Linked DNA regions of Homo sapiens. The protein of the gene in region 2 purifies or fractionates together with the protein of the main gene of each other region. This does not show direct contact. Each region holds a gene or a part of one and is shown on either strand. Other genes may lie near its edges.

Region 1 (4,368 bases), on a different chromosome or scaffold from region 2:
AGGACATTACCGCAACTCATGACAGAGTAACACTGCTCCCGAGAAGGAGAAAACAACAGCTAATACCACTGCCTGCAACATCCTGGCTAACCAAAGGTCCTGAGTCTATCCATGTGACAACTTCACCGCTTGCATAACCAGCATTCAAGAAAGCCAGCACACTAAACCTATCTATAGCCAAGGATCCTCACAGAGTCTACATCATTCCCCTGCCACCTCCACCACAGCAGGTGCTGGTACCCATGGCTGAGAGACCTGAATATGGATTACATCACAGGACTCTTTTCAGACATTCCCCAGCACCAGCCTAGAGCCCGCTATCCCTGCTGGATGGCTAGATCCAGAAGACCAGTAACAATCACTGCACTTTGGTTCTCAGGAAGCCCCATCCCTAGGAGGAGCAGGAGAGCACCACATCAAGATATCGCCTCATGGGACAAAAGAATCTGAAGAGCAGGCCTTGAGTTCCAGATCCTTCTGCTTGTGGGTAGTTTCTCACAGCAGAGACAAAATTGCAGCACTGGACACAGTAGGGAAAGTTGCACCTAAACCCCAATAGGCAGGCAGCCTCTGTGATCACATAGGGCCTTGGAGAAGAGGTCCTTGTTCCCTACTGGCACTCCACCACAGAGGAACTCAAACAAATCAGCAAGAAAAAAAAAATAATTCCATCAAAAAGTGGCCTAAGGACATGAATAGACAATTCTCAAAAGATATACAGATGGCCAAGAAGTATATGAAAAAAATCTCAATATCACTAATCATCAGGGAAATGCAAATTAAAAAAAATAATGAGATACCACCTTACTCCTGCAAGAATGGCCACAATTAAAAAATTAAAAAATAACAGATGTTGGCATGGATATGGTGAAAAGGGAACACTTACGCTGCTGGTGGGAATGTAAATTAATACAACCACTATGGAAAACAGTATGGAGATTCCTTAAATAACTAAAAGCGGAACTACCATTAAATCCAGCAATCCCACTACTGGGTATCTACCCAAAGGAAAATAAGTCATTATATGAAAAAGACACTTGCATATGCATGTTTATAGCAGCAAAATTTGCAATTGCAGAAATATGGAACCAACCTAAATGCCCATCAACCAACAAGTGGCTAAAGAAAATGTGGTATATATACACCATGGAATACTACTCAGCCATAAAATAAACTGAAATAATGGGCCGGGCGCGGTGGCTCACGCCTGTAATCCCAGCATGTTGGGAGGCCGAGGCGGGCGGATCACGAGGTCAGGAGATCGAGACCATCCTGGCTAACACGATGAAACCCCGTCTCTACTAAAAATACAAAAAATTAGCTGGGTGCGGTGGCAGGCACCTGTAGTCCCAGCTACTTGGGAGGCTGAGGCAGAATGGCATGAAGCCGGGAGGCGGAGCTTGCAGTGAGCCGAGATCGTGCCACTGCACTCCAGCCTGGGCGACAGAGCGAGACTCCGGCTCAAAAAAAAAAAAAAAAAAAGAAAGAATGGCACTTGCAGCAACCTGGATGGAGTTGGAGACCATTACTCTAAGCGAAGTAACTCAGGAATGGAAAGCCAAATATCATATATTCTCATTTATAAGTGAGAGCTAAGCTATGAGGGCACAAAGGCATGAGAATGATATAAGGGACTTTGGGGACTCAGGGGGAAAGGTGGGAGTGGGGTGAGGAATAAAAGACTACACACTGGGTACAGTGTACGCTGCTCGGGTAACGGGTGCACCAATATCTCAGAAATCACCACTAAAGAACTTATCTATGTAACCACAAACCACCACCTGTTCCCCAAAAACTATTAAAATAAAACAAAATTTGTAAAAACCATAATAATAAAATGACCTGATGGGGGAAAAAAAAAAGAAGAAGAAGAAAGAAAGGACAAGGCAGCTTCCACTCAAGAAGACTACAGGGTAAGATCTTCTCAGGGTAAAAACAAGTTTGGTATAAAGAATGTGAGCACTGTTCTGTGAAAAGGTTGGGGATATATAGGCAAAAAAAAAAACGGAGGGAGGGCAACAAAAGGAAAAGTATCACAGCATAATAAAGGTCATTTATGATGAGCCCACAGCTAACATCATACCCAATTTTGAAATACTGGAAGTTTTTCTTCTAAGATCAGGAATAAGACAAAGATGTCCACTCATCACTTCTACTCAACATAGCACAGGAAGTTCTAGCCAGAGCAATGAGGCAAGAAAAAGAAATAAAGGCATCCAAACTGGAAAGGAAGAAGTAAAATTATCTCTATTCACAGATGACATATCTTATATGTAGAAACCCTAAAGATTCTACACCAAAAAAAAAAGCTGTTAGAACTAATAAATTCAGCAAAGTTGTAGGATACACAACACACAAAAATCAGTTATATTTCTATATCCTAAGAATGAACAATCTGAAAAGGAAATTAAGAACACAATCCCATTAACAATTGCATCAAAAGAATAAAATACTTAGGAATAAACTTAAGCAAGTAGGTAAAAGACTTATACGCTAAAAACAAAACACTGCTGAAAGAAATTAAAGAGTACAATAAAAAGACATCCCGTGTTCATAAATTAGAAGACTTAATATTGTTCAAATGTCTATTCTACAAAACAATGTACAGATTCAATGCAATCCCAATGGCATTTTTTGCAAAAATAGAAAAAACATCCCAAAATTCATATGGAATCTCAAGAAATCCCCAAACATCCAAAACAATCTTGAAAAAGAACAAGGATGGAAGTCTTATATGTACTAAATTTAAAATATATTACAAAGCAATAGTAATCAAAACAGTGTGGTATTGGCATAAATACAGATATATAGACTAATGAACAACAGAAAGCCCAGAAATAAATCCTCATCTATATGGTCAAATGATCTTCAATAGGGATGCCAAGACCACGCAATGGGGAAATGACAGTCTCTTCAACAAATGGTAATGGAAAAACTAGATATCCATATGGAAAATAATGAAGCTGAACCCCTATCTTATACCATATAAAAAAAATTAACTCAAAATCTGTTAAAGACCTAAATGTAAGACCCAATATAAAACTCCTAGAAGAAAACATAGGGAAAAGCTTCATGACACTGGATTTAGCAATGATTTCTTGAATATAACACCAAAAGCAGAGGCAAACAAAAGCAAAAGTAGACAAATGGGCCTTAACGAAACTAAAAACAATATATATCAAAGGACATGATCAATAGTGTAAAAAGGCCAGCTACAGAATAGGAGACAATATATTGAAAATTCTATATCTCACAAGGGATTAATATCTGGAATCCATAAAGAACTCCTACAGGCCAACAACAACAAAACTCAATTAAAAATGGAAAAAGGACTTGAACAGACATTTCTCCAAAGATTTTTAAATGGCCAACATGCATGTGAAAAGATGCTTGACTTCCTTAATCATTAGAAAAATGCAAACCAAAACCACAATGACATATCACCTCACACTCATAAGGATAGCCCATATCAAAGAAACAGAAAATAACAAGTGTTGATGAGGGCGTGGAGAAACTGAAAACCTTGTACACCGTTTGTGGGATTGTAAAATGATGAGCCACAATGGAAAACAGTATGAAAGCTCTTCAAAAAATTAAAAATAGACTACCATATGATCTAGCAATCCCCACTTCTGGGCATATATCCAAAATAATTAAAAACAGGATCTCCAAGAGGTATCTGTACACTCAAGTTAATTATAGCATGTTTCACAATAGTCAAGAGGTAAAAGCAACCAAAATGTCCATTGACAGATGTAAAGACCATACCTCTTTAAACGTAAAGAATATATCTTTACATTTAGAGATAATATAGGCCAGGCGCAGTGGCTCACACCTGTAATCCCAGCACTTTCAGAGGCCAAGGCGGGCAGATCACCTGAGGTCAGGAGTTCGAGACCAGCGGGCCAACATGGTTAAAAAAAAAAAAAACCATCTCTACTAAAAATGGAAAAATTAGCCAGGCATGGTGCACGCGCCTGTAGTCCCAGCTGCTTGGGAGGCTGAGGCAAGAGAATCACTTGAACCTCGGAGGCAGAGGTTGCAGTGAGCCAAGATCACACCACTACACTCTAGCCTAGGTGACAGAGCAGGACTCCGTCTCAAAAAAAAAAGAAAAGGTAAAGATAATATAAACATTATAGACATTATAAGTGAAATAAGCCAACCACAAAAATACAAATACTATATGACTCACTGACACAAAGTATAAAGTGGTCAAATTCCTAGAAACAGAAAGTAGAATAGTGGTTGTCAAGGACAGCTGGGTTGGGGCGGGAATGGGCAGTTGTTCAATGGGTACAGAGTTTCAGTTTTGCAAGATGAAAAAGTTCTAGAGATCTGTTGAACAACAATGTGAATATACTTAAC
Region 2 (6,007 bases):
CATGTTCTCTCTTGCCTGCCACCATGTAAGAGGTGACTTTGCTCCTCCTTCACCTTCCTCCATGATTGTGAGGCCTCCCCCGCCATGTGGAGCCGTGAGTCAATTAAATCTCTTTCCTTTATAAATTACCCAATCTCAGGTATGTCTTTATTAGCAGCATGAGAACAGACTATTTAATACACTTAAATTCCATTTTTTTTTTTTTTTTTTTTTGAGACAAGAGTCTCAGTCAGCCACCCAGGCTGGAGTGCAGTGGCATGATCTCGGCTCACTGCAACCACCATCTCCCGGTTTCAAGCGATTCTCCCATCTCAGCCTCCCGAGTAGCTAGGATTACAGGCACCTGCCATCATGCCCGGCTAATTTTTGTATTTTAGTAGAGACAGGGTTTCACCATGTTGGCCAGGCTGGTCTTGAACTCCTGACTTCAGGTGATCCGCCCGCCTCGGCCTCCCAAAGTGCTAGGATTACAGGCGAGAGCCACCGTACCTGGCCTCAACTTACATATTTCTAAGAAAAAGAACATTTTCCTACATAACCACAAAATCATTATGACACTCAGGAGACCTATAATTGATTGATAATATTATCTAAAACACAAGTCACTTCAAAATTTTCCCAACTGACGCACCAGAGTAGCTGGGACTACAGGCACGTATCACCACCCCCAGCTAATTTTTGTATTTTTTGTAGAGACGTGTTTTCACCATGTTACCCCAGCTGGTTTCTGAACTGAGCTCAAGGGATCCACCCACTTCGGCCTCCCAGAGTTCTAGGATTACAGGTGTGTGAGCCACTGCACTCAGCCTGTAGTTGTCTTAATTTAATGTTTCTCTTTCTTTCTTTTCTTTTCTTTCTTTCTCTTTCTTTCTTTTTCTTTCCTTTTTTCTCTTTCTTTTTTTCCTTTTTTTTTTTGAGACAGAGTCTCACTTTATCACCCAGGCTGGAGTGCAGTGGCCTGTTGTCGGCTCACTGCAAACTCCGCCTCCCAGGTTCAAGTGATTCTCCTGCCTCAGCCTCCCAAGTAGCTGAGATTACAGGCACCTGCCACCACACTTGGCTAATTTTTTGTATTTTTACTAGAAACGGGGTTTCACTATGTTGGCCAGGCTGGTCTCAACTCCTGACCTCAAGTGATCCGCCTACCTGGGCCTCCCAAAGTGTTGGTATTACAGGCATGAGCCACCATGCCTGGCCAATTTAATGTTTTTCTATTTTTGTTTTAAAATATTTACCTATTCTGAAGTCCAAAGATATTTTCCTATATTATATTCTGAAGACTTTATAGTTTAGGATTTCACATTTAGGTCTTAATCCAGCTACAATTGATTTTTGTGATGAAATGAGAGATAGAGGTCCTGTTTTCTGTTTTGTTTTTTTTTTTGAGACGGAGTCTCCCTCTGTTGCCCAGGCTGAAGTGCAGTGGTGTGATCTCCGCTCACTGCAACCTCCGCCTCCCGGTTCAAGCGATTCTCCTGCTTCAGCCTCCTGAATAGCTGGGACTACAGGTGTGTGCCACCACACCCAGCTAATTTTTGTACTTTTTAGTAGAGACAGGGTTTCACCATGTTGGCCAGGATGGTCTCGATCTCTTAACCTCGTGATCCGCCCACCTCAGCCTCCCAAAGTGCTGGGATTACAGGCGTGAGCCACCGTGCCCGGCCTTCATATTGTCATAGAACCTTCACTGAATAGACCATCTTTTCTCCATGGCTGTATGATGCCACCTTTGTCATAAATCCAGTTTTCAAGTATGCGTGATAAACCGTAAAGAAAAGCAAAGAGTCAAGTATCTGCTTTTGGTAAAATAAATAAATAAATAAATATAAATAAGAAAAGCAAAGTGTTATAAAAGTCGGGCTAGTGGTTTTCTCAGGAAGTGTATCTGTGAAGAACCTGACACTATTCTTTTTTCGCTCTAATGACTTGGCTGTTCATAATTATACTTATCTTTGGTTTATATTTCAGAATAAAATTGTGTTATATTTATCAATAAAAGGTTAGTTAAAAGTAAGCAAACAGAAAAAAAAAAAGAAATATTGATGAGGGGAGCGCCAGCATCTCTCAAAAGTGAGTTCGTGGTTTTGCTCTCAATGGAAAAGCCGGCGGGAGGTGCTAAGGTGGGGATGCTGAATCCACGGATGGCCAAGCGGAGACGCGGCACTTCACCGGGGGCAGCGAGGGGCCCAGACCTTGCTCGGATTGTCCCGGTGGTAACTGGGAGACCTCGCCAGTGAGGGAAGTTACAGATCAGCTGCGCCCGGAATTAAACGACCCACAGACAACGGCGCAAACAGAGGGACTGACCTGCTTTAGTGAGCTCCCAAAACCTGCTCTCGCATAAGCACACCCTCCTCCGCTCACAGAGACGGATTTCTGCCCCAGCCGCAGCCTCGCGAGGTAGGCGGCGCCGCGAGGGCCTCTGGGAAGGCGGTCCGTGGGCAGCCGCGGGGCACTCTGGGACTGGGCTCTGGGCGGCTTTTTTGCGAGTGGCGGGCCGACTGTGTAGTCCGCTCCGGCAGCGCGCTCTGCCCGGCTTCCTCAGTCTCCTCGCCGGGAGCGTCCGGGAGCAGCTCCGAGGCCGCGGCGAAACCAGGTGGAGTCCGAGGTTCGGAGGAGTATCAGAGGTTAGGGGAAGGCCGGAGAATGGGCTGGGAGGCTGCGTTTCGGAGCTTAGGGTTCTGTCCCTGCGATCGCCGCGTCTCCCTCCCTTGGTGGGCGCGGCTCCCGGGAAGCGGCTCGTCTCGTCTCCCCTCACAGGCCGGGTTCCCGTTCTGGACCTTCGCCCTCGGAACACAGTGCTGTTGGCCGGGACTCCTTCCCGAGGTGGACGGCTCCCTGTTCTTATTCCTGGCTCTGCCAGAACTGTAGGAAGTGCTCAGTACACTTTAGGGCATGCATGGCACTCCCTGGGAGACAGTGCTTTAGGGCCAGAGGAAAGATCTTCCCTGAAGGCAAACGCCCGCGGAGCCCACAAGTCCGGGCCGCACTGAACAAGTCAGGATGTTGCCATCGGCAATTCTGCAGAAGGCAGTAACCCATCTGAGAGAAAGAGCCGCTGTCATAAGGTCTCTTGCTTGAGCTGCTGGGTTGAGAATGGAGCTGGAAGAGGGAACTGATCTCGGAGCTCCTTGGGGATCTTGGTTATGTCTGACCCTTTTACTTTCAGGGAGCAGGGATTGGATCAAGTCATTGCATCTAGAGTACGGGGGAACGAAGAAATCATGGAGAGAGTTTGCCCCAGGAGAGAGGCGAGCGTTATGTAACCTAGGATCTGGGGTGGGTAACAGTCTGTGCAGTGTCAATGTGAGAGGAGAAAACACCCAACGTGAGGGAATGGTCAGGTAAGAAAGGACCAGAAGTTCCGGTTCTACCATAGCAAGGACCTAAGTTGCTAATTTAGGTTCTTTAATGCAGACCTGGTCTTTCAGAACTTCTTTCTCTTCCCTAGCCTTGTCATTTCAGCATTCTGGCCTTCCCTATGAGGAGGAAGATCAACGAAGTCACAGGTGAATAGGAGTTTCTCTTCTAAAGTTTCATCTCCTTTGTCAGGGGGAATCGATACACTCTCTCATCTCTTCCTTGGGGAAAAAGAAGGAGATCTATCTTCATCGAGTGCTAATATGCGTACTATATGTTATCACTCAATGGTCGGATATCTCAGTAGGGTTAGTAGGTATTTTAAAAATGTGTCAGTAACTTCAGGAAAACTAGAACCTTGTCCAAGCTTACTCAAAAGGCAAGTAGCATACTACTAAATGCTACCGAACTACTCAGGATTAGGTTTAGAATCCATATCTGTAGGACTCCCAGACTCTTGGCATTATGCTGTTTCCCAGCATCCCATTCACTTACTACCTAACAATTTTGCCATACCTGTGTACTACCTGTATTATTCTATGTTTTTACTTACTTTTTTTTTTTATAAAAATCAAACTTGTCCTAAGAAACAATATCTGTGAAATTAGCCATTTGATGGCTGCTCCAATAACAGTATAGTTATTCTAAGGTGTATCTAAAAATGTTGGTCCATGTGCTATGTAAAATCGTCTCGTGTCAGACATACAAACTACAATTTGGGACACAATGCACTGCATTATGCTCTCTTCTGGATTCTTTTCTGCGTAGGAAAGTCCCAGACACATCTGAGCATCAGTCATCCATCCCTAGTGTACTGTTTTATTCTTATAGATGAATACTTTCACAGAGAATGCCCTGCTTTGTATCTTCTCCAAAAGACATTTCACTTCCCTGTTTAGAACTACCTGTTCTCAATGTTGTATGTAAAACAAGTAGGAACTCCATACATTTCAGGAGCTTCCTCTCTCTTTGGGGAGTTAATGTGTACACAGGAAATAGTCTAACTCTATGCTGTTCAGTAGAGCTTTCTGTGATCAGGGAATGTTCTGTATCTGTGCCTTATCTGTATCCACCAGCCAGATGTAGCTACTGAGCACTTAATATATGGCTAGTGCAACTGAGATGTGAATTTTATTTTATTTTAATTAAATTTAAGTAGCCACATATGGCTAGTGGCTACTAATGGCTACCATATTGGACAGCCAGGTCTAGATATTTGAAATAAAATATTTTAAGGTTATTGATTTGGACTTGGAGTTCCCCCTCACCCTCACAAATACCTCATAGCATATGTGTTATAAATGCCCTTTAGGGCTGGGTGCGGTGGCTCACGCCTGTAATCACAGCACTTTGGGAGGCCGAGGCGGGTGCATCACGAGGTCAGGAGATCGAGACCATCCTGGCTAACACGATGAAACCCCGTCTCTACTAAAAAATACAAAAATTAGCTGGGCGCGGTGGCGGGTGCCTGTAGTCCCAGCTACTCGGGAGGCTGAGGCAGGAGAATGGCGTGAACCCGGGAGGCAGAGCTTGCAGTGAGCTGAGATCCCGCCACTGCACTCCAGCCTGGGTGAAAGAGTGAGACTCTGTCTCAAAAAATAAAATAAAAGAAAAGAAAAAATAAATGCCCTTTAACTTTAGTTTCTTGGTGAAGGGTAAATATTCTTTCCAATTTTCAGAGACTTCATAGTTGAAATAAAGTTTCTTGAAATTATTTAAAGCACATTGACAGTTTATAACACTTGTGTAAATGCACAGCTTCTGTATTTTGTTACTATTGAAATATCCTGTAAAGCAATAATGTTGTAGGATACTCTATAAGCAAAAGTCTTACTATTGTATTATTTTTATTCATTGCAGATAACTTTTCTTCTAGCTATCTATGTTTTCTTTCATTAGTGACATTTAGACTATTTAAAAATCAGTTAAACACAACCACAACTGATATTAATGACGTTTTCAGGGCATCACTTCTTACGCTTTGACATAGGAGTTGGTGCATTCACCTTATTTCACTGCTTATTAGAATAGCAAGAAGGGGACATTTGGTTCATAGCTATCTCTATCAGCTAAAATTCTATGTCAAATTATTTATTTTCCTGGCACTCAAAGTCAAACACTAATGGACTGGTTGTATCTTGTTTTGCTTACTCTCTATGCAGGTTAGATATGTGGGGTTAGAAGGAAGGCTTAAAAAGAGTATCTTCATAAGATAATTTGCCTAGTTTCTTTTTTCTTTTTTCTTTTTTTTTTTTGAGACGGAGTCTCGCTCTGTTGCCCAGGCTGGAGCACAGTGGTGGGATCTCAGCTCACTGCACGCTCCGCCTCCTGGGTTCACGCCATTCTCCTGCCTCAGCCTCCCAAGTAGCTCGGACTACAGGCACCCACCACCAAGCCCGGCTAATTTTTTGTACTTTTAGTAGAGACAGGTTTCACCGTGTTAGTCAGGATGGTCTCGATCTCCTGACCTCATGATCCGCCCGCCTTGGCCTCCCAAAGTGCTGGGATTACAGGCGTGAACCACTGCGCTTGGCCGCCCAGTTTCTTAAGATTAAAAAATACTTGAAAGACAAAACAATCAAACATAATGTGTGGTCTTTGTTTCCTGGATTAAAGAAAAGCTATCTAGGACATTTTGAGGACAGTT
Region 3 (4,368 bases), on a different chromosome or scaffold from region 2:
GCCCCTTCCCTGTCTCCTTCTGGACAGCAGGCAGATCAGGGAGCGCGCTGGCAGCATGGTCAATTAAACCAAGTAAGGAATGAACAGCAGATACCATTTCTGTGGGAAAAGCCCACACGCCACTGGCACCATGAAGATGAGGCTGCAAGAAAGGAGAAACCAAAGCATCAGGGGACATCTCCCCACAGGCCCGTCCATCCCCCATCCCCAAGGGAAAGGAGCAATGCCCAGGCACCTGGCCTGCCTTCCCAGCTGGCACCATATCCTCTCCCTCCAACCCTCCTCCTGTTCCCGCAGTGCGAGGATACTCATTCTGGCAGGGGGATAAAACCAGTACCCTCCTGACCCCCATCACTCATTCCCACCCTTACTGCATTGTTCAAGCAGAGGAAGAAGACAATGAAGTAAACAGGGACTGTGAGCAGCAGGCCTAAGGAGCACAGGCACTGCTGGCATCGAGCGAAAGGAGCGACGAGGAGGGAGAGGAGAAACTTGGAGGGGGAGGAGCAACATGGAGGGGGAAGAGCGACATGGAGGGGAGGAGCATCATGGAGGGAGAGGAGGGACATGGAGGGGGAGGAGCGACATGGAGGGACAGGAGCAACTTGGAGGAACAGCATGGAGGGTGGGGAGCGACTTGGAGAGGGAAGAATGACTTGGAGGTTGAGGAGCAACTTGGATGGGGAGGAGCGACTTGAAGGGGGAGGAGTGACTTGGAGGGAAGGAACTACTTGGAGTAGGAAGAACTACTTGGACAGGGAGGAGCAACATGGAGAGGGAGAAGGACATGGAGGGGAGGAGCAACATGGAGAGGGAGGAAGGACACAGAGGGGAGGAGGGATGAGGAGGGAGAGGAGCAACTTGGAGGGGGAGGATTGACTTGTATCGGGAGGAGTGACCAGGATGGGGAGGGGCACTTTGGAGTGGGGGAGGGGCACTATGGAGGGGGAGGAGTGAGTCTGTGGATTCTGAGACCTGCTTCTTTATTGGTTGAACACCTGGGCTGTCAGAGCACAGTGAAAGGCAGTTTCTCCAGCTTCACTGTGCATATAACTTCAGGAGCTTATTAAAATGCCAGGTGCCAACTGAGGGGGTCTGGGGAAGGACTTCAGAGTCTTTACTTCTAACAAGTTATCAGAGGATGCCAACGATGCTGGCATGGACCAGGGTTTGGGAGGCAAGGTCTTACAGGACGCGGGACTCTGACAGACCTGGGTTGGTATCCCAGTTTTACCACTTACTAGCTGTGCCATCTTGGACAAGTTACCTCAGAGACACAGAGGGAGGACAACCTACTTTTTAGGGCTACTGCAGACCACTTTGCAGTGCCTACTTTGCAGGGTTACTGTGAGGATTCAATGAGATATGTATGTAAAGCACCCAGCCCATGGTAACTACTCAATTAGCAGAAGTTGGTATAGCATAATGTTAGACTGTTGATCAAATCTCAGCTCCAGCAGTTACCAGCTATATACCCTTGGGCAAGTTTCTTACTCTGTCTAAGTCTCAGTTTCTTCATTTGTAAAAGGAGATGATAATAATATGTAGATTTCTAAGGCTGGGAGAATTAAGTGAAATTATAGATATGAAACACTGGGTTCAGTGGGGACACAGAGAAAATATACAGTCAGTGTTAGCTGTTAGTGATGCTGTCATTAGTCTCGTGGCCCTGAAATGCATGGTGAACGCTAGGACATCTCCAGTTAATGGCAGATACCTAAGAACCCTGACGTGACTGGTGGCATTTCCCTCCTGTGTGAGTCTGGGACACATGACAGTCCCAGCCAAAGCTATGTCTCCTCGTTCTTATCTCTTCTGTAAAACTGCTCCAGACAGCCAGGCGCAGTGGCTCATGCCTATAATCCCAGCAATTTGGGAGGCCGAGGCAGGTGGATCACTTGAGGTCAGGAGTTCGAGACCAGCCTGGCCAACATGATGAAATACAAAAATTAGCAAGGCATCATGGTGCGTGCCTGTAATCCCAGCTACTCAGGAGGCTGAGGCAGGAGCATTGCTTGAACCTGGGAGGTGGAGGTTGCAGCGAGCTGAGGCTGCGCCATTGCACTCCAGACTGGGCGACAGAGCGAGACTCCATCTCAAAAAAAAAAAAGCAAAAAACAAAAAAATTGCTCCAGACTTAAGGTCAAAGGAGAGACCCTGGGATGGGAGGGCACCTCAGCACTGGACTTCCTACATGGACACGTGCATAAAGTCTAGCCAGCCTGATGCCCTCACAAAAGATGGGGTGAGAGCTTTCCAGATGGACCACAGGTATTCTGAGCTTGACCACTTTTAAAGTCAGGTAAAGGAGTACACGTTCTCCAACACGGGCTAGACAAGACGACACATCTTGAGTGCTCCAGCCACGCAGAACCCAAATCATCAAAATATGATACTTACAAGCACCCGCTCAGCATGACCTGCAATGGGGCGTGCAGGACCTTGACTTTCTGTATAAAAACAAATAAAAGACAGATCCACATGGTACTTCTATGCCTTAAGGTGAACCCCAACCCTGCTCTGCCATGGATCAGCCAGCTAGAAAAGCCCACAGGTGGCTGGGCGCAGTGGCTCATGCCTGTAATCCCAGCACTTTGGGAGACCGAGATGGGCAGATCACAAGGTCAGGAGATCGAGACCATCCTGGCTAACACAGTGAAAACCCGTCTCTACTAAAAATACAAAAAAAATAGCTGGGCGTGGTGGCAGGCACCTGTAGTCCCAGCTGCTCGGGAGGCTGAGGCAGGAGAATGGCATGAACCCAGGAAGCGGAGCTTGCAGTGAGCCAAGATCGCGCCACTGCACTCCAGCCTGGGCGACAGAGCGAGACTCCATCTCAAAAGAAAAAAGAAAAACCCACAGGCAAGGACCCCCTGGCCCTTAAAGAAGGCCTTGTTCTCTGCAGACCAGGTAAGGAAACTGGCCATGGTATATCTAAACAGGAGGTCAGTGGAGATTGGTGTGGGCTTGAGTGAGATGACAGCATGGTAGCTAAAGGGAAGGATGGGTGGGGGAGGGCAGGTCAGGTATCCCTAGGGACAGATGTGGCTGGACGCACTCTGGGCAGGGAAAATGCCAAAGCAAACCCTACATACCTGCATGAAGTGCAATTTCTCAAGCCTTTCCATGATGACTGGCAGCAAGACTGGAAGAGACCAGGGAGAAGCTGAGGGGAGGGCTGGGAGGCTCTCCCCAGGACTCCTTCTGAAGTCAGACCAGGAACCAAGTGGTTCCCTCTCCTTCAGCAGAAGCTCCAGAAAATACTTACCACTAGGCAGAACAGAAGAGCAAGTAGGCATGACCACCCCCAAACTTTCTCCCCAAAGTCCTGGCAGAACAGTGCTTCCCAAGCTTCTCAACCTGCACACTTGCAATATCAGGAAAACATGTGCTGCTAGGTCCAAAGCTACCTTCTCAAAACTCAAAAATGTATTTGTACGTTCGTGCAAACAAATTTTGCAATACACCCACTGCTGGAAGCAAACCAAAGCAGGGAATTTATTTTCTCTATCACTCTCCCTAGCACCCCACACTGTGTCTAACATTAAACACAAGGGCTTGACAAGTATTAATAAAATGAAAATAACTTTCTACCCCAAACCTTGGATGAACTGATGTTCTAGGAACTAGTGTGGTTCTTCTAGGCTTACAGCAATCAAGCAAAGCAGTTTGAGAAGCATGGCTGTAGAAGGTGGGCCCCACCTCCCACCCAAAAGCTGAGTGTGGCTGAGACCTCCACCCTGTGTCACAGGCTTCCCCAGGATGGAAGGGCTTCCCCATCTTACTCATCCCAGGAGCTGACATGGTGATCCGAGAAATAACTACTTGGGTGATGCCTATGGCCGCAGCTCTCTGAGGGCAGAAAATAGTAAGTTGTCAGAAATGATGTATCCAGTGTACATGTGCTGCACCAGGGGGCTGGGTCAGCATCATGGCCAAGTCTGAGATGGTAAAGGGGAAGGGAAGGACCCTCCAGTTGCTGAGTGACCTCACTTTATCCCCTCCCACCTAGCCAGGTTTTTATGGACCAGAAATGATGGAGAAAAGAGAGAAGGGGCCTGTTCTGAACAGAGAAACATGGGGAAAATTTGATAGGGAGTGAGGATGGAGCCAGAAAAGGCTTCTCAATCCTATATTGGTGCCTACTCTGACCACTAAGGAGGGGACAGGGTATGAGAGGGAATTCCCTCCTCCCACCCCAAAGGGAGGCCTCTGCTCACCCGGGAATGACCAATCTCATTTTCATTCCTGTCCTTCACGCAGATTCCCTTTATGAGCTCCCTAAACACAGACAGGAGTTAATGGACTTGGGAAAGGGGTGATGGAAGCCTGCCAGCCACATGACATGCCAGGGGACCAAGGCCAGGC
Region 4 (4,368 bases), on a different chromosome or scaffold from region 2:
TTTTTCTGTTTCATTTTTTATGGGAAATCCCTCCTTAAACTTAAGGAGAATGTAAACCTAAATACAGATATCAAGGTGTCTTTATTCATTTACCGCTGCTTACATTTTGGAAGTATGTTGATTCTGAGGAAAGAAATCAAGGTGGATCTATCACTAAGAAGTAAAATTGATCCATAATATTTATGTCATGTCATGGTATTTGAAAATGTTATATTACTAAGAGCTTCGATGGCAGTCATTTTTTTTTTCTTTTTCCTTTAAATAGTCATGTTGGAAGCCTCTGCAGAGAACATTTTACAGCAGGACTTTTGCCATGCTATCAAAGTGGGAGTGAAATATACCCAACAAATAATTCAGGGCATTCAGCAGTTGGTAAAAGAAACTGGTGTTACCAAGAGGACACCTCAGAAGTTATTTACCCCTTCGCCAGAGATTGTGAAATATACTCATAAGTAAGAACATCTGTGCAAATGAAAATATGAAATTGTCATCAGATTTAATTTCCTCGTGGGAGAGAAACTTCCCATGGAAGCACTGCCCATGCATTACTTCATAAATAGCACTTTTCTGTTTTAAGAGTCATTCCCATAAATATCTGCTTACTCCCTTAAAAAGGATAAGCCCACATCACTCTTGTAAGACCTAACTTTGAATCTCAAATGAAAGAGTGTGTTTATTGGTCAAGATTCAGGTAAGCACCACATCTCTCCACGTCTAGGAAAAAGAATAAAACGTTAAGATATTTGAATATCTAAGGAAACTGTTGGAATTCTCAAAAAGAAATCAGAGGTAATCACTGTTACATGCCCAGTGCTTAGAACGTTAGGCAGACACTCAGTAAATGTAAATGAATCACTGGAAAATTATTTTATTTGAAAAAATTGAAAAGGTTAATACTTTCCCTTAATGTCAGTTGCACAGCCATGAGTTGGAAATTAAATTAACTCTTTCTAGCAAAAGAGTTTCATGTGATAATGGAGCCAAAATGGGTAGAATGAAGAAAGGAAGAGGTTAAAAAGAATATATGAAAGGTGAAATTAATTGAACAATTAAGAAGAAAAGAACAGGATACTACATGTGGTTTCCCCTGGGAGGGTGGGAGAAAGAAATTTGTGTTCTATACCATAAATAGTAAACAGATTAGCAATGATAAATAGCAATATAAATTTTCAATTCTTTCTGAAGTATTTATTAAAGTTTTAGCTGATTATTATTAAATATTTCAGTTTTGTTTATAATAGAAACTGCCTCTTGTTTCCAGATATTATTATGCTAACATTTATTTTCTGCTTAAATAGACTTGCTATGGAGAGACTCTATGCAGTTTTTACAGATTACGAGCATGACAAAGTAGGTATACCTGAGTTTTGTCTTCCATAATTGCCCTAGGAATACATTTTTGTCATAACTCATGTAATTTTCTTTATGAATGCTAGTCCTATTTTTATTAAAAATCTCTAAATGAAAAACTAACAAAAGCCTAATTGTTTCTCCATTCTTTTGTTTTGTTTTGTTTTTGAGACAGAGTCTCTCTCTGTCGCCCAGGCTGGTGTGCAGTGGCATGATCTCAGCTCACTGCAACTTTCGCCTTCCAGCGATTCTCATGCCTCAGCCTCCCAAGTAGCTGGGATTACAGGTGCACGCCACCACACTCAGCTATCTTTTGTATTTTTAGTAGAGACGGCCATGTTGGCCAGGCTGGTCTCAAACTCCTGGCCTCAAGTGATCTGCCCACCTTGGCCACCCAAAGTTCTTTTCTTTTTAATATAAGTTTTAGGGGAGTGTACAAATGTATTTGAATGAATTAACATGTAGTATTTGTCATAAATCAAGAACCAATTCCAATATTTTAAAGAATATTAAAGAAATCAGAGTAATTCACAATGTGTTCATTGTATAATAATTAGAAAACAGAAATATTAAATGTTGTCATGTATATGTAATAACTGAACCTCAACTTTCTTTTAGGTTTCCAGAGATGAAGCTGTTAACAAAATAAGATTAGATACGGAGGAACAACTAAAAGGTAAATTTTATTTTATTTTATTTTATTTTTTTGCTGAGGGCAGCTTTAATAAGGCATGGCCTGACTCTTGCTTCTTGGGATTAAAGGTCAAAGAGGAAAGGCATCACATCTGTAGGAAAAGAAGAATTCAAAGGACTTTCAACTTTACAGCTGCTGTTCCCTAGACCTAGAATGCTCTCTCATAGCAGGTGGTCTTCTTCTAACCCAAGGTTCAAATGCCACCTCTTCTCCAAAGCTTCCCCGAACTGTTTCGGGGAAAGAGAAAGTCCCCTTTGCACAGAACCGCTATTACTATGTATTTTTTAATTTTAAAAGCATTAAAAGAAATAATAGACTTTTTTTTTTTTTAACTTTAGTTGAAGATCTCAAATAAATGTTACTCTCATTGCTTCTCAGCTTTATTTTCAATAAACTTGTAATAATGATAGCTCACAAGGTTACTGCTAAATTAACTTCTATGAATGTAGCTAGCACTACATTTGATGCAGAGTAGGTACCTAGTAAATGTTGAATGTGAATGTTCCTGATCTTTTCTGAATCAAACTCCTACCATACAAGAAATGTAACCTGGTATCTTATCATTTGAAAACCCAAATATATTCTTTAAAATTCTTGAGTTCTTGATCTGTGAAATTGCAGTGTTAATAATACCTGGTTTATGGGGATTAAATGAGTGAATCATTTACATCTGTGCCTGCCACACCGTAAGTGTTCAATAAATGTTAACTGATGCTATTCTTAATACCTAGTGGAATCATAAGATACAGAACTTAGGTAATTTAGCTCTCCAGAAATTATTAAGCAAAGGATCTTACTGTATAATATCAACCTCTGGCCAGGCGCGGTGGCTCACGCCTGTAATCCCAGCACTTTGGGCGGCCGAGGCAGACAGATCACGAGGTCAAGAGATCGAGACCATCCTGGCTAATACGGTGAAACCCTGTCTCTACTAAAAATACAAAAAGTTAGCCGGGCGTGGTGGCGGGCACCTGTGGTCCCAGCTACCCAGGAGGCTGAGGCAGGAGAATGGCGTGAACCCAGGAGGTGGAGCTTGCAGCGAGTCGAGATCGCGCCACTGCACTCCAGCTTGGGCAACGGAGCGAGACTCTGTCTCAAAAAAATAAATAAATAAATAAAAATAATAGTAATAATACCAACCTCACACAAACTGAATATAAATGAAGTATGACATAGTTTTTGTTAATTTTTCTAATAGACAAATATACTCTCACATGAATATTTATTTTAAGATAAAAAACTGGCCAGGCGTGGTGGCTCATGCCTGTAATCCCAGCACTTTGGGAAGCCAAAGTGGGTGGATCACTTGAGATCAGGAGTTCAAGACCAGCCTGGCCAATATGGTGAAACCCCATCTCTACCAAAAATACAAAAATTAGGCGGGCATGGTGGCAGGCTCCTGTAATCCCAGCTACTTGGGAGGCTGAGGCATGAGAATCACTTGAACCTGTTAGGCAGAGGTTGTAGTGAGCTGAGACCGCCACTGCACTCCAGCCTGGGCAATAGAGCAAGACTCCATCTCAAAAAAAAAAAAAAAAGTGCTGTTAGCATTGATATTAAGGCCATTAATTGTAACTGTCATTGAATATGTTTAGTCCTTTCTCACTACATTTCATCCTATTTGGTAAGAAAGAAATTTTATAGCGAATATTGTCTTATTTTAAAAGAATAGTGACTTTTTGTTTGTATTATACATAGTAGAATATCTTCACGACCCTCTGGGTTGATAGGATATTTTAAACATTTTGGTACTGATTGTTTTCCTTTCCAAGTACAACTCAGTTAAGCAGAAAAGATATTAAAGTCTAATATTAAAAATTATTCTTTTCTGAAGAAGATACAATCTAATATATCTTTCTGTGACCATTTCTTGTGTTTTGGTTACTTTGAAGTTATGTTTAATAAACCATACACATGAGAGAATAGTACTTAAAACTTGGCATAAATTAATTGATAGGGTAGAATAGCTTAACATCTAAACCCTAAGCTAAAAATAAAATAAAATAAAACCATAAGCCTTTGAGGCTGACAGATCTTTATTCAGGTCACAGCTGTATCAGTTACTACCTGTGTGGTCTCAGGCAGTTTACTCCACCTCTTTATTTTTTATTTATGTTTTTTTTTAAACTCAGTGGTTATCTCTTACACAGTACTTCACCCCTTTAAGCCTCAGTTTTTTCTTCTGTAGAATGGGAATCATAAAATTTAGTTCATAAGTTATTATGAAAGTTAAAAGCATTAAAAAACCAATAAAGTGCCTGGCTCATGAAAGCATTTGACAAATATTAGATAGAAAACAGTTTGTAGGGATTTCTAATATATTT

What was found.
Region 1: the proteins of EXO5 (region 2) and AGK purify together in Homo sapiens (affinity purification with mass spectrometry, with the first as the bait; one study listed by BioGRID). This does not show direct contact.
Region 3: the proteins of EXO5 (region 2) and SFXN2 purify together in Homo sapiens (affinity purification with mass spectrometry, with the first as the bait; one study listed by BioGRID). This does not show direct contact.
Region 4: the proteins of EXO5 (region 2) and PNPT1 purify together in Homo sapiens (affinity purification with mass spectrometry, with the first as the bait; one study listed by BioGRID). This does not show direct contact.

Annotation. Positions count from the first base shown.
Region 1 is NC_000007.14:141,557,910-141,562,277, reverse strand, and holds part of AGK (acylglycerol kinase, mitochondrial isoform 1 precursor), read right to left. Parts: intron 1-4,368. UniProt on the Homo sapiens protein: Lipid kinase that can phosphorylate both monoacylglycerol and diacylglycerol to form lysophosphatidic acid (LPA) and phosphatidic acid (PA), respectively. Does not phosphorylate sphingosine. Phosphorylates ceramide.
Region 2 is NC_000001.11:40,506,282-40,512,288, forward strand, and holds the start of EXO5 (exonuclease V), read left to right. Parts: upstream 1-2,485; 5' UTR 2,486-2,627; exon of another isoform or gene 2,628-3,068; intron 3,069-3,169; 5' UTR 3,170-3,344; exon of another isoform or gene 3,345-3,451; 5' UTR 3,452-3,509; intron 3,510-6,007. UniProt on the Homo sapiens protein: Single-stranded DNA (ssDNA) bidirectional exonuclease involved in DNA repair. Probably involved in DNA repair following ultraviolet (UV) irradiation and interstrand cross-links (ICLs) damage.
Region 3 is NC_000010.11:102,731,636-102,736,003, reverse strand, and holds part of SFXN2 (sideroflexin-2), read right to left. Parts: intron 4,282-4,368; coding exon 4,221-4,281; exon of another isoform or gene 4,197-4,220; intron 3,853-4,196; coding exon 3,786-3,852; intron 3,146-3,785; coding exon 3,096-3,145; intron 2,451-3,095; coding exon 2,401-2,450; exon of another isoform or gene 2,396-2,400; intron 143-2,395; coding exon 95-142; intron 1-94. UniProt on the Homo sapiens protein: Mitochondrial amino-acid transporter that mediates transport of serine into mitochondria. Involved in mitochondrial iron homeostasis by regulating heme biosynthesis.
Region 4 is NC_000002.12:55,668,977-55,673,344, reverse strand, and holds part of PNPT1 (polyribonucleotide nucleotidyltransferase 1, mitochondrial precursor), read left to right. Parts: intron 1-265; coding exon 266-452; intron 453-1,298; coding exon 1,299-1,350; intron 1,351-1,968; coding exon 1,969-2,026; intron 2,027-4,368. UniProt on the Homo sapiens protein: RNA-binding protein implicated in numerous RNA metabolic processes. Catalyzes the phosphorolysis of single-stranded polyribonucleotides processively in the 3'-to-5' direction. Mitochondrial intermembrane factor with RNA-processing exoribonulease activity.